2 linked regions of the Homo sapiens genome follow. The protein of the gene in region 1 interacts with the protein of each later gene in a pairwise test. Each region holds a gene or a part of one and is shown on either strand. Other genes may lie near its edges. The genes, in order: RNF144B and UBE2U.

Evidence for each region.
Region 2: the proteins of RNF144B (region 1) and UBE2U interact in a two-hybrid assay, tested with the Homo sapiens proteins (2 studies listed by BioGRID and IntAct).

The regions. Positions count from the first base shown.
Region 1 is NC_000006.12:18,383,293-18,390,462, forward strand, and holds the start of RNF144B (E3 ubiquitin-protein ligase RNF144B), read left to right. Parts: upstream 1-4,057; 5' UTR 4,058-4,338; intron 4,339-7,170.
Region 2 is NC_000001.11:64,199,369-64,206,671, forward strand, and holds the start of UBE2U (ubiquitin-conjugating enzyme E2 U), read left to right. Parts: upstream 1-4,254; 5' UTR 4,255-4,682; coding exon 4,683-4,748; intron 4,749-5,172; exon of another isoform or gene 5,173-5,415; intron 5,416-6,270; coding exon 6,271-6,352; intron 6,353-7,303. UniProt on the Homo sapiens protein: Catalyzes the covalent attachment of ubiquitin to other proteins.

The sequences.
Region 1 (7,170 bases):
TTAGATAAATAACACTGACTGAGTTCCTAATGTGTATCAGGCCAGGACCATGGTGTACAGCTGAGCAGGTTGTGCAGTACACAATTCCAGGAGCTGCCAGTCACTGCCTCCACCCCAACCACCACCCTGGCCCATCAAGATTTGTATCGTGCAGGCATCTCCGTGTATCAGGCACTTTGGTAGCTACTTAAAAAAACCACTTTTACCCTCACAACAGCCTATGAGATGAATGTCATCATTCTTATTTTATAGATGAGAAAACTGAGTTTCGGGTATATTAAATAACTTCATTAAGGTTACATAATAATGAGTGGGTAGTGGAGTTTGCCAAGGTCCAAATCCTCTGCTTCCCTCTATAGCATGTGGGTTGTCTTAGCTTTTGGTAATCTCATCTATGGCCACCACCTAAATGATGGCAATTCCCAAATGACTCTCCACCCTAGATCTCTCTCTGTTGATAGCCTACTGGTCAGTTTTTCCAGTATGCCCCAGAGGCACTTCTGATTCTATAGATCTTAATTTGAATTATCATGGTTTCCTTACCATCACTTCTCTTTTATTCCCCCTCTTAGTGGTGCCAGCAGTTGGGGCTATTCTTTTTCTCTTATCCCCCTGCATCTGATATAGTTTTGATGTGTGTCCCTGCCCAAATCTCATATTGAAATGTAATCCTCATTGTTGGAGGTGGGGCCTGGTAGGAGGTGATTGCATCGTGGGGGCAAATTTCTCACGAATGGTTTAGCACCATCTCCCTAGGTACTGTCCTGGGGATAGTGAGTTCTTGTGAGAGCTGGTCGTTTAAAGGTGTGTAGCACCGCCTCCCTCCCCCCTCCCCCCGAAACGCTCTCTTGCACCTACTTTGACCATGTGACAGGCCTCTCCAGAGGGCCAAACAGATGCCAGCATCATGCTTAAAGCCTATAAAGCCTGCAGTACTGTGAGCCAATTAAATCTCTTTTCTTTATAAGTTACCCAGTTTCAGGTATTTCTTTATAGCAATGTGAGAATGGACTAATATAACATCCAATCAGATACCAAGTTCCATCACTTCTGTTTCTGAAATCTCTCTCCATTGGTTCCCTTCCTTTGCATGGCAGTTGTCACTGCATTAGCTCAGACCCTCATTCATTTATTCTGGATGTATCAGCTCTGTCTGAATTATGAAAAATTTCACCTAGAGTCTCATGTCTAACCCTTTGTTTTAGCTGTTTGCTCAGCCTGGTTTACCCTTCTCTACCACACCTATTGGGCTACTTGAAGACATAGATTTAAATCACTGATATGGTTTGGATCTGTGTCCCCAGCCAAATCTCGTGGTCGAATTGTAATCCCCGATGTTGGAGGTGGGGCCTGGTGGGAGGTAATTGGACCATAGGGACAGAGTTCTCATAAATGGTTTAGCACTATCTCCTGGTGCTGTTTTTTGTGACAATAAGTTCTTGAGAGACCTAGTTGTTTAAACATGTGTGGCATTTCCCTGCCCCACCCCGCCTTGCTTCTGTTCCAGTCACGTAAGACATGCGTGCCTGCTTCCCCTTCACCTTCTACCATGATTGTAACCTCCCTGAGGGCTCCCCAGCCATGCTTCCTGTGCAGCTGCAGAACCATGAGCCAATTGAACTTCTTTTCTTTATAAATTACCCAGTTTCAGTTATTTCTTTATAGCAATGTGAGAACAGATTAATATAATCACCTTCTCAGAGAAGACTTGATTCTTTTCATCAACTCCTTTCCTTTAAATTCTTCTTCTCTGTGCTCCCAATAGCACATCATGCTTAAGTCTATCATATCACACATTATGTATCACTCACACATTGGGTACAACTATCAGTACCCTGATAATTGATTTGCTTGTCTTACTCCTTCCCTGGATTGAGAGGTCTTTGAGGACAGGGAGACCATGTCTAATATCATTATCTTAATACAACCTAGCAGATTGTCTGGGAGGAAATCAATAAATGCTCCAGAGAATGAATATCCATTCACACTGTAGACTCCTTAGGAAGATCTGAGAGAGTTTGTTCACATAATATTATAGCATTCAACGTGTTTATTTAGTCTTATTAAATTTTGACTGCAATTTAAAAAAAATTTGCATAGTTGCATGGTTGAAAATAATCAGTGGTGATGTTACTCAGTTGTGCAAAATATTTGGGATAATAGGCAGCACTATTCGTGCTTATGTTCTCATTCATATTGGCAGCAGCTTCTTCCCTTATCCTGTTAACAAGAGATTATAATTTATGAATGGTAATTTGAAAAGTGGACTCTGTGTTGAACTTTGGTTTAAGGCTCAGGAGATTTGCATCAACACCAATGAATAAACTAACCTCTTAGAGGTTGCTTTTTATCTTTCCTAGTTCCTGTCCACCAAAATGGTCACTATACCAAGAAAATTCCTTGAAATAGATTATCTCAGAACCTAAGCCATTGCTAAATCTGAAGGTTGGACTTCCTTTGGGATGGTTTTCATTTACATTCACCTTCCTCATGTAACTCAGATTTAGGTCTCATTCTAGCTTGGCCTGTGTCTGGTTTGGGCCAATCTCTTAAATCTTCCTGGACATCAGTTTCCTTATTTTTTTTTTTTTTTTGAGACAGAGTTTCGCTCTTGTTACCCAGGCTGGAGTGCAATGGCGCAATCTCGGCTCACTGCAGCCTCTGCCTCCCAGGTTCAAGCGATTCACCTGCCTCAGCCTCTCGAGTAGCTGAGATTATAGGCACCCACCACCACGCCCAGCTAATTTTTTGTATTTTTAGTAGAGACGGGGTTTCACCATGTTGGCCAGGCTGGTCTTGAACTCCTGACCCCAGATGATCTGCCCGCCTTGGCCTCTCAAAGTGTTGGGATTACAGATGTGAGCCACCGCACCCAGCCCAGTTTCCTTATTTTTAAAATCAGGTTATTTGCTAAAATAGCTAGGAAGACTTTTCAAGCTCAAATATCCTACCGTGGGTTCTTTTATCATCTTATTGCCCCTGTCCTTTTTCTCTTCCTCCCTGACTGGTGAGCTGGTCCTCCTACCTGCCCTAGCATGGCACATGTAGATACACTGTGTTATTCAGCACTTTGCTTTGACCTAGAGGTTTTCTTCAACTTGGAGGGCTGAGAAGCAATGTTTGCTTGTGTCGTTTGGAATGGTGCCTGTTGGCGTGCACAGATCCTTTCCACAAAGGGCCTGTGAGTCCCTTCCTTTTAGGAAGCACATTCCTGACAGTGGTTGCAAAAGTAGAGAGGGATTGCAGAGTGAACACAGATTCTTGTGTCAGAGCGACATTCCTAAATGGCAATGTTCAGCAGACTTAGGTGATTGTGATCTATGGGGGATATGGGGAATGAGTAGGTATGCGATTCATTATGAATGTCACACAAATGAAGTGTCCAAGGGTTTGGAGCAAGGAAGCACTTCATAATACCTCACAGCTTCTGGATTATTTTGTTACATTTTTGTTTAATTGAGGGTACAACCAGTTAAGTTACAAAGCACTTCAAGTGAAATCATTGTTTCATCAAGAAGTGTCTGTATTTTATGAGGTAAACTAAGATTATTCCCGATTTGATTCACAGGTATTCTAATTTCATCATTAGATGCAAAAGGACAAGTGAGGTACAAGCTGTTTTTTGATGAGATGTGCATGGGAAGTGTTTCTATAAAACAGTTGTCTGCCACGTGGGAAGGCAGGTCTGGGCTGTTAGAAGTAGAAGAAAGAGATTTAAAGAGCTGGGAAGGAGGGAGAAAATAAAGAAAGGTGGCCTGTGAGGATATGTACAGACAGAGAGGTAGCAGGCGCTTAAGGCCAAGAGGTGAGCTGTCCCTGTCTGGGCAGAAGAAGTGCGCTAGGGGCAGCTGCCTGCACCCCCTGCTCTGAATTCCTGCAACAGCGGTCCCAGGAGAACAAGAGACAGGTCCTGACAAGCAGTAGAGTCGGTGCAGCGCGCCCGGGTTCGGATAGGGTTAAGGCCAACACCTGCAGCTGAAGTACGACCCACATGGGAAGTAGGAAGTGCGGCGCCTGAGCTTCCTGTATAAATAAACGCGCTGCTACCGCTGCTGGCGAGCTGTGCCCCACGCTCCCGCTGCAACAGTCCCGGGCATCGCAGCTGCCAGTCAAGGCTAGGAGGCGGTCGGGGACTCCGCCTCCTCCCGACCCGTAGGTCTGGGAGCGCAAGTCCTGTTGCAGTCTTGCAAAGTGTAAAGCTGTCAGCCGCAGAGCACGGAGGAAAGACGGAGAGAATGGAAGAGCTCCTGTCCGGTGTGCCAGCAGCCCGGACTGGCGGTGAGCGCGAGGGAGGCTACTGAGAAGCCCGGCGACGGAGGAACGCAGGTCTGCTGCCAGGTAGGTTTAGCGAGCTTTTTAAAGGCTACAGGCGTTGCAAGACCGGAATGGTGTTGCTGGACTAAGGAAAAAGGACAGGAAACTCACTGTGACACCACAATTTTTCGATTTTCTGTCTCTAGTGCTCAAACCATACAGAACTGAATTCATTCTGAATGCCTTAAACACCTGTTAACTTAGAAGAAAAATGCCTTTGTTAAAGGAAAGTAGTTTCATTTCTAATAAAACAGTTTCTATAATAGAATGTATTGTAGAATCCGAGATTAGACCAGACCTCTCCCTAGGTCTTAAGGGGAGACCAAAAGTTGGCATAATCTCGGATTATGCATTATAGTGCTTATTTTATCAGGTAATTGCTAATGAAACAGTGAAACTCTGATACTACGAGAGCCATTCTCAAATTTAAGTTAAAATCGAACTGATTGTCGTTTGTGCAGGGAAAAGGTAGGTATCTTTTGCTTATTCTTTCTAAAACACCTTTTGTTTTTCTCATGAGTTTCAAGGATCCTGCTGTAAGTCTACTCCTCATGCATATACACTATTCACATAAAGATTTCCCAGAAATTAATTCCCTTCTCTGGGAAATGTTCTTTTTTCATGTTCTCATAACAGACTGTCAGTTTCATATTGCTTTCTGCCACATGTATCTTATCAAAACATTAGCTCTGAGGTTCTTAACAGGACTATCTCTGCTCTTCCGATTTGGCATTTCTGGACGTTTATTTGAACATTGAGAGGTATAAATTAAATGGCAATGTATCTAACATTTCTGAGGAAGCAGATTAGGGGGTGTCTGTGCCCAGAAGCAAAATAAATGAACTTTGGGATGACTCAGTTTTTAGGGTGTGGGTAAGAGGCAAAAGGAACCTAGCCAGTCCTAACTGAGTTGCTGGCTAATTAGAGTATCTGTCTGCCGCAGCTTTCACTGAAATGAGCCTCTTGGTCCCTTTCACATCAAATCCCTCTGTGAGTCCCTCCTTCTCCTTAGTTTATCTTTCCTTCACAACCTGGGTCCTTTTCATGGACAGCAGTGCCTTAAATACTTCTAAAACTATCCTGAGGGGGAGAAAAACCTATAGCAGATCCACAAAGCCACTTGTAGATAATTGTATTATGAAATCCAAGGTCATGGTTTCACACAACTCCTGCTCTGCCCTTGCACACCTTTGACTGGCATTTTTTTTTTTATTTTTGTCGTGGGCATAAACTTAGAAAAGTGGGAAAGGGAAAAACCTCAGTTTCAAAAGTAGTCTCTGACTAATTAATTATCTTGATTAAAAAAAGGTAAACATATATAGTGAACGTGAAAAAGATGTTGAGTAGTAGAATTGGGTTGCTTGGCTTTTTATTTAAAACAAACAAAACTCAACCAAAAAAACCCCCCAAAACCCCAAACAATCACCCTAGATAACTTTCTCCTACACTACTGTGCTGGAAGTCGGGCTTGAGTGTGGTCAAATCCTGCCCATTTACCCAGAGTTTTACAAATATTTACAGTCATCTATGCCAAATATCTTTGTGCTGAGTCCCAAAGAACATTCTCAGCATTCAAAAGGCCCATTCTCATGAATGGTTTCAGTTCATTGGCAATTTAAAGGCATTCAGGCTTCCAAACTAGGTCAGCTTAAGACATGTCTTTTTAAAATAATCAGTTTTTGGGTCTCAGATTATGAACCAGGTTTTTGGAGCCAAACTCTACAGCAGAGAGAAGAGTATGCTCTCTCTGGAAAGAAAAAGCTTATTTTATCTACCTGGTATGACCATTTAACTTCCTGAAAAACGTCTTTCTCCTCAGTAGTATGAATATTTTTCATCTGAGGAGGTGCACTTAAAATTTCCTTCTTGAAAAGTCATTTCAATATTTTAGACGTTTAGAAACATTTATATGTATGTCAGAATCCTTTCTCCGAAGTGTTTCTGCTAATCCTGGCTTCTTTGTTTCCCCTGGCCTTGACTTTATGACATTACTTTCTTGGAGAGTGAAGTTTTTAGTGTTTGAAATCTCCAGTTTGAGATAGAGGTCAGGAATCATGCTGAACCCAGATGTTACTGAAGGAACAAAGTCTGAGCAGTTTTGGGACTAAGCCTACTTTGTACAACTGATTATTTTGGATGTGGGAAAAGGGCCAAGCTGCCAGACAAGTCATGCTTTTCACTTGGACTTTGGGGAATAGGTATCTGTAGCCATTGCTCCTAAGTACTGAAACATTTCTTTCAGGGGTGCCTACCTTAATTTATAGAAGCTCCTTACCTGAAACAAATGGTCAATATTTTCAGCTTGTGAATTTCTGGAAGTGAATACAGATGAGAACCAGGCCTTTAATATTTTCTCTCCTCCAAGTACAATCAGAAAAGTTATCCACTCTACTACTGAGTGACTGATTTGCTAGGTGCTAGGTTAGATGCTGGGATATAAAGATGGCTAAGATGTGGTCTCTGTCCGGAAGAAATTCTCATAAGGTCAGAAGTGACTTGGGTCTAGAGTGGTAGTTCTGAATTCACATTGCTTTGCCAGATTATAAAAAGTACTTCGATGTTTGTCACCTCGATCATCTTAATTTTCTTGGTAGTGTTACCTTGACCATTTGACCATTAAGAGGTATATGACACCTAAGTTAATTTATGTAAATATTTTAATTCATAATTTTTACCTTTAGGTGTATGTGGGAGGTCTTGGACTAAAGTTTTAGTTTTATTAACTTTGGCATTTGCTATTTACCCAGTCGGTGAGTACTTTGGAACCTAATGCATCATACCATAGTTGTTATTAAAAAATGGATAACTATATATTAAATGAGTAAAAATGACCAATGCTTCTGCAACGTGGAATGA
Region 2 (7,303 bases), on another chromosome or scaffold:
GGAGTCAGAGATGACTTCAAATTTCCAACTGGGACAGAAGCTTGGTTGAGAGAAACAGTAATGAGTTGATTTTTGGACATTTGAGTTTGAAATGTGTTTGGGACAAGACAGCTGGGTGACAACCAGGCATTTGGATATAAATTAGTAGGTATACTAGTCAGAAGTCCCAAGAAGAGGTCAAAGCTAGTAATATAGGTTTGTTGTGGGGGGAGTCATATGAATATCTTCCAACTTGATTTTCATTGTGCTAAAGTATCATATAAATGCCATCTTCTAAAAATTCACAACAAAAAATGTTTTTCTTTACCTTAATTTTCTTTTACCTTACTTACTTTTATCTTTCTTTTACTTTAACAAAATTTTCCCTAGAATGAAATTCTAAACAAAAGATGGAGGATTCTTATTGTATGACATGATGACTACAGTTAATAAAAATATGTTGTATCTTTGAAAATAGATAAGAATAGATTTTAGGTTTCCTCAACATATGAGGTAATGCTTATGTTAATTAGCTCAATTTAGCCGTTCCATAACATATACATATTTCAAAATATCATGTTTTCCATGATAAATAAATAAATATATTTTTTAAATACAAAAGATTCTGAATTCATTATCACAATAATCCATTAGGGTGGGAGAAAGGATTGTGGGACCACAGTGATATGGACAAACCTAGTTACGATCTCCAAATTGGGCCTATTCCCTTCTCACTGAAGTAGCCCTTTACTCACTTTCACCTGATATTTCCAATCCTATGCAAGCCCATGTTGAAATCTGATGGGCTGGAAAGAAGGGCCAAAATATTCAATCCCAGATCCTGTTGATGTTTTCACAGGAAAAAAATCCTTTCTATTTAGTTTTAGGAAACATAGAATAATAGCATTTTATTGTGTCAGCATTTTAGTACAGTGAATATGTTGTTGGTGATTTCTAAGCTACCATACCTGGAGGTGAAATTTACTGTGGGATCCTTCCAAGTGGTCCCCCCCAACAATTCATTCTTCGTAGAGCAGCCAGAGTAATCAAGTAAATATAAATCAGAGCATGCTCTCCCTCTCCCTCTCCCTCTCCCTCTCCCTCTCCCTCTCCCTCTCCCTCTCCCTCTCTCCACGGTCTCCTTCCACGGTCTCCCTCTGATGCCAAGCCAAAGCTGGACTGTACTGCTGCCATCTCGGCTCACTGCAACCTCCCTGCCTGATTCTCCTGCCTCAGCCTGCCGAGTGCCTGCGATTGCAGGCGCGCGCCGCCACGCCTGACTGGTTTTCGTATTTTTTTGGTGGAGACGGGGTTTCGCTGTGTTGGCCGGGCTGGTCTCCAGCTCCTAACCGCGAGTGATCCGCCAGCCTCGGCCTCCCGAGGTGCCGGGATTGCAGACGGAGTCTCGTTCACTCAGTGCTCAATGGTGCCCAGGCTGGAGTGCAGTGGCGTGATCTCGGCTCGCTACAACCACCTCCCAGCCGCCTGCCTTGGCCTCCCAAAGAGCCGAGATTGCAGCCTCTGCCCGGCCGCCACCCCGTCTGGGAAGTGAGGAGCGTCTCTGCTTGGCCGCCCATCGTCTGGGATGTGAGGAGCCCCTCTGCCTGGCTGCCCAGTCTGGAAAGTGAGGAGCGTCTCTGCCCGGCCGCCATCCCATCTAGGAAGCGAGGAGCGCCTTTTCCCCGCCGCCATCCCATCTAGGAAGTGAGGAGCGCCTCTTCCCGGCCGCCATCCCATCTAGGAAGTGAGGAGCGTCTCTGCCCGGCCGCCCATCATCTGAGATGTGGGGAGCACCTCTGCCCCGCCGCCCTGTCTGGGAGGTGAGGAGCGTCTCTGCCCGGCCGCCCCGTCTGAGAAGTGAGGAAACCCTCTGCCTGGCAACCGCCCCGTCTGAGAAGTGAGGAGCCCCTCCGTCCGGCAGCCACCCCGTCTGGGAAGTGAGGAGCGTCTCCGCCCGGCAGCCACCCCGTCCGGGAGGGAGGTGGGGGGGGTCAGCCCCCCGCCCGGCCAGCCGCCCCCTCTGGGAAGTGAGGAGCCCCTCTGCCCGGCCAGTCGCCCCGTCCAGGAGGGAGGTGGGGGGGTCAGCCCCCCGCCCAGACAGCCGCCCCGTCCGGGAGGGAGGTGGGGGGGTCAGCCCCCCGCCTGGCCAGCTGCCCCGTCCGGGAGGTGAGGGGCGCCTCTGCCCGGCCGCCCCTACTGGGAAGTGAGGAGCCCCTCTGCCCGGCCAGCCGCCCCGTCCGGGAGGGAGGTGGGGGGGTCAGCCCCCCGCCCGGCCAGCCGCCCCGTCCGGGAGGGGGGAGAGGGGGTCAGCCCCCTGCCCGGCCAGCCGCCCCGTCCGGGAGGTGAGGGGCGCTTCTGCCCGGCCGCCCCTACTGGGAAGTGAGGAGCCCCTCTGCCCGGCCACGACCCCGTCTGGGAGGTGTGCCCAGCGGCTCATTGAGAACGGGCCATGATGACAATGGCGGTTTTGTGGAATAGAAAGGCGGGAAGGGTGGGGAAAAAATTGAGAAATCGGATGGTTGCCGGGTCTGTGTGGATAGAAGTAGACATGGGAGACTTTTCATTTTGTTCTGTACTAAGAAAAATTCTTTTGCCTTGGGATCCTGTTGATCTGTGACCTTACCCCCAACCCTGTGCTCTCTGAAACATGTGCTGTGTCCACTCAGGGTTAAATGGATTAAGGGCGGTGCAAGATGTGCTTTGTTAAACAGATGCTTGAAGGCAGCATGCTCGTTAAGAGTCATCACCACTCCCTAATCTTAAGTACCCAGGGACACAAACACTGCGGAAGGCCACAGGGTCCTCTGCCTAGGAAAACCAGAGACCTTTGTTCACTTGTTTATCTGCTGACCTTCCCTCCACTATTGTCCTATGACCCTGCCAAATCCCCCTCTGCGAGAAACACCCAAGAATGATCAATAAAATAAATAAATAAATAAATAAATAAATAAATAAATCAGAGCATGACACTCTCCTGTTTAAACCCATTAAATGGATTCCCATAGCTATTCAAATAAAGCCCAAACTTCCTACTGTATAGTGCCCATCTTTATCACACCCCTCCCAGGCTCCTCCACAACCTCCCTGACCTTCCCTTGTTCCCTTTTCAAGACAAGCTCTTTCCTGACTCAAAAATATCTTGTTTTCCTCTTCCTAGAACTCTCTGCCCTCAATATTTCATGTAGCAGGCTCCTTCTCATCTTTCATGTATGAGTTCAAAACCCCATTCCTTACAGAGGCATTTCCTGACTACCATTTCTAATCCTTAATGACCTACCCCAATCTCTATCATGGTACTGTTTTATTATTGTCCACATAACGTTTATCACCATCTGAAATCATGATTTTTGTTTTGCATACTTGTTTATTGTATATTGGAGCCATAAAGACATTTACTTCATTTGAATCTTTCAAGTAAAAAAAAAGTATTTAATAAATATTTGTAAAATGAATGGACTAAATGAACATCCGGATTCTATAAAATTAGTAAGTAAAAAGTAAAAAAAGAAAGTATTCTGAACAAAGATGCCAGGCTTTGTAGTTGGCGCTGGCAATGGAACCGTGTCTTTCAGTAGTTCCCACTCTGGTGAAGACAATAGACAATTGTGATGCCGTATGGCAAATGTTAACTAGGAGGCAAATAGAAGGTCCTGTGGGATCACAAAAGAAAGGATCCCTTAAAGAGTCGTTAAAATCTGAAGGATGAGTGAGTGAAGGGGAAATGAGGGCTGAAGGGGTGGAAGGAATGTGGTAAACTCCTAGGTAGAAGGAACAGCAGGTGCGAAACTGTGCGGGAAGAGATGGGAATCAGAGAAATTTTAAGCAGTTCCCTGTTCCTGGAGCACTTTCCCAGGGTGATTGTAGGGTTTGATGACATAATAGCATGCACACTACTGTGAATGGTAACTCGCCATGTAAGTTAAGATATTGTTATGCAGACCTGTACCTACCAGTCACTTACTATATCTTTTGATAGTCAAAGAAAAAGGAAGGATAATTTCGAAGAAAGACTTCGTGGGACGGCTTCTGTGACTTACATGCTGGGTCCTGGGACCTCACCCCATCCTCTACACTAGTTTTGTACAGTCCATGTTCGTGGCCTGAGAAGGCGTGGTGTTGCCTTGACCACGAATCTCATTGGCCTTTCAAAGGGGAAACTGTTGTAGGATTGGCTGTGGAGATAGCAAGAGGCCTGCCCCCTGTCGCTGATTGGGTGAGAGCGGCCAACCCCCTGCCTCCGTCTCTCGGCGGCCCCACGGGGGCCTGTTGGTTGGCAACCGATTTGCTTCCTCCGGTGCGTGGCTGCGGGGTTGCACCTGTGAAGCGAAGACAACCTGCTAGGACCCTGATAGGCGTACACCTCTCACTCCCACTCACGCGCCGACGACATGGGCTTGTCTCCGTTACTCATCCAAGTTTGTCTTGAGACTGGGCTGTGAGCCGGCACTGCAGTGAAACGCCGCAGATGAGGAAGTGCCCAAGTCTTCCTTCGGGAAGTTCTCGTTTAGAGGAGTCAGGAGAAAAAGTCATTGTTATATCCCAACTTTAGAAGCCGCTTATCTTGGTACCGTTCTGAGGTTCTAGAAAGCAAGTAACTTATATCAGTTTACTAAGTGTGGGAAAGTGACCCATAACTTCAAACATCTGCCTCAGAGTAAACCTGAGGCATTTGGGGACAAGTGTCAGACCCTCCGCTGCCTATCATGCACGGCAGAGCTTACCTCTTGCTGCACAGAGACTTCTGTGATCTCAAGGAGAACAATTATAAGGTAAGTACTGGGCACGTGGAGAGATGTGTTTCATTGTGCAATAATTTTTAAGAGGCAGTTTAACCCATTTTATTCTATAAGTAGTAATTTAGTTAAACCTGATTTGCCACTACAGTATTGTTATTTAATAAATCCATTTCACTGAAGTAATGTGTTTCATATTAATAACAATTATTATTACTTCAAAATAATAATGCTTAACAATATTGAACATATTATGCAGAGTAATTTATGTGGATCTAGGCACTGAATATCAGGGTCTGTCATGTAGTTAGTGACTAGTAGGTGCAGGCTTATGCTCATTAATTATAATACTATACAATAAGTAGTATTTCATTTTACTTACCAAAAACCTAAGCCTCAGAAATATTCTGTAAAGATTTTGCCCCATGATTCCATTACAGGGTTTTTGGACTTCAAAGCCCTAGTTCTTAATTCCTGTGTTCCACTGCTTACTGTCTAGTGTACTTTTACCAGCATGACACATAAATGCCTTCCCTTTATAGTTTTAACACAAAAGAAGCAATGTCCTTGGGCTTAAACGCCACCAATGAGGTTATCAATGTCCATGGCTGCCACAGGCTGATTTACGGAAAATGAAAAATGGAAGAGGGGGCGAAGAGGGAGTGCTTAAGAGAAAGAACAGAAAGAAAGCTGTCCATGAAAGGTATAGAGTGCTTCCCACAGTTGCTTCAGGTGTAGTTCAGTGGCATTGTTCATTTTTTACCTCTGCTATAAAAGTACTGCATTCACTGGAGATGTTAGGAACAATTATGGAGTCCAACAGCGAACATTCCTGGGGCATGGACCTAACATTTGATATTGTTTCTGCTCATCCTGAGCTCTGTAGTTCTCTGTTGAAAGAGAATCCAATGAAGGAATATGTAAATATAGATAATAGAGAGACAGGGCTCACCCAGACAAGCACTAACATACTTAATAACTATGTGGATGCTCAGAAGTGTTTTTATGTGTTTGTAAGTGTGTTACTTAACGTAATTCATAAGGTTTTCTATGAAATACATTCTTGTCCCTCCATTGGAACAACTCCTCAAGTATAGGAAAACTTTGCTTTTATATACAAGTGTAATTTTGGATTTTTTCTTAATGAAAATGTTCCCACTTCATGCCTTTCATATAGCATTCATATAGCTCTAAAATGTTTTGAAGAAACATGCACTTTCCAACTATTTCTTTCTTTTAAAATTTGAATATTAAATTGGTTATTGATTTACACAAACAGTATATAAGCCACACATTCTAATCTTGACTCTCTAGTCCCACTTGTGATTTCCACACTTATGATTTATTTTTAATTACTATTGCATATGTTTTCTGGGATCTATATTAACTTCCGTGAAATAAGACATGTAACACTTCCCCAGAGCAGCAAATAAATAAACTTATCAAGGAAAGAAAATTTAGAGTTTTTAGAATTCAGTGTGACCTGGTATATGATTTTCAAAACTTCAATAAATACTTAATAAGTTTTTTCTGATTTAATTTTGTTTTTAACTTCAAGGGTATCACTGCTAAGCCTGTAAGTGAAGATATGATGGAATGGGAAGTTGAAATTGAAGGTCTACAGAATTCAGTTTGGCAGGGTTTGTATTTTCAAAACCAATCTATTTTTTAAAAAAGTCTTTATACCATTATTAGCCCATCCTCTTTTTATGTAGGATAAGGTCGCATTATATAAATTTCCTGAAATTCTTCTTCATATGCATAAGTTTGCATTATACCAGTTGTCTAAAATTCTAAAAATATTCCCATTTTTTTTATTTATGACTTTTTTGCCATGTGTCAACATAGATGGAAATTTGGGGTATTTTTCTTTATGCCAAATCTTAATTTTATTACATTTTTAAGAAGCAGACACAATAGAGCATATCAATTGAGAGAATATCGTCTGCCTTCCGTGAGATCAGGGAATAACTATCAAAATTCCTATTGGCTTCAAAACCCCACAGTTACTTCTCATTTTTTCCTTTATGATTTTCCCCCAAATTTTCATAAATCAAAAAATCTCAAGAACACTAAGCCACTATAAACTTTAATGCTCATGTTTTCTTTCAATTATGGATTAATAAGATAGATTCCTTGAGTGAGGTAGGGGAGACAAACACATCAGCTGATAATTACAATAAAATATACATTATTATGGATTTTGAACAGAATGCTAAAGAGGAAGAGGATTAGTTAATTATGCCTGAGGGAGTCAGGAATGTCTTCCCAAGGAGATCACATTTGAGTTGAGTCCTGAAGAATCTGCCAGGTTCAGAAGAAGGATAAGGAAATTCGGGCAGAGTAAACAGCACAGCAAAGACTTGTAGACAAGAAAGGGTGTAGCAGATTTTGGGAACATGAGTTCAGTCAATACGAGATACAACAGAGGGGGTGGATGTTAGGGCGACAAAGGTAGTAGATGGAAAGGACTAGTGGGAAAGAGACTGAAAACGTATGATTATAATAGATTGTGAAGTGTCTGTTATACTATCCAGAGGAGTCGGTGCACTCTATGAATCAATTTACTTAAAAATAAAACTGTGGAAAGA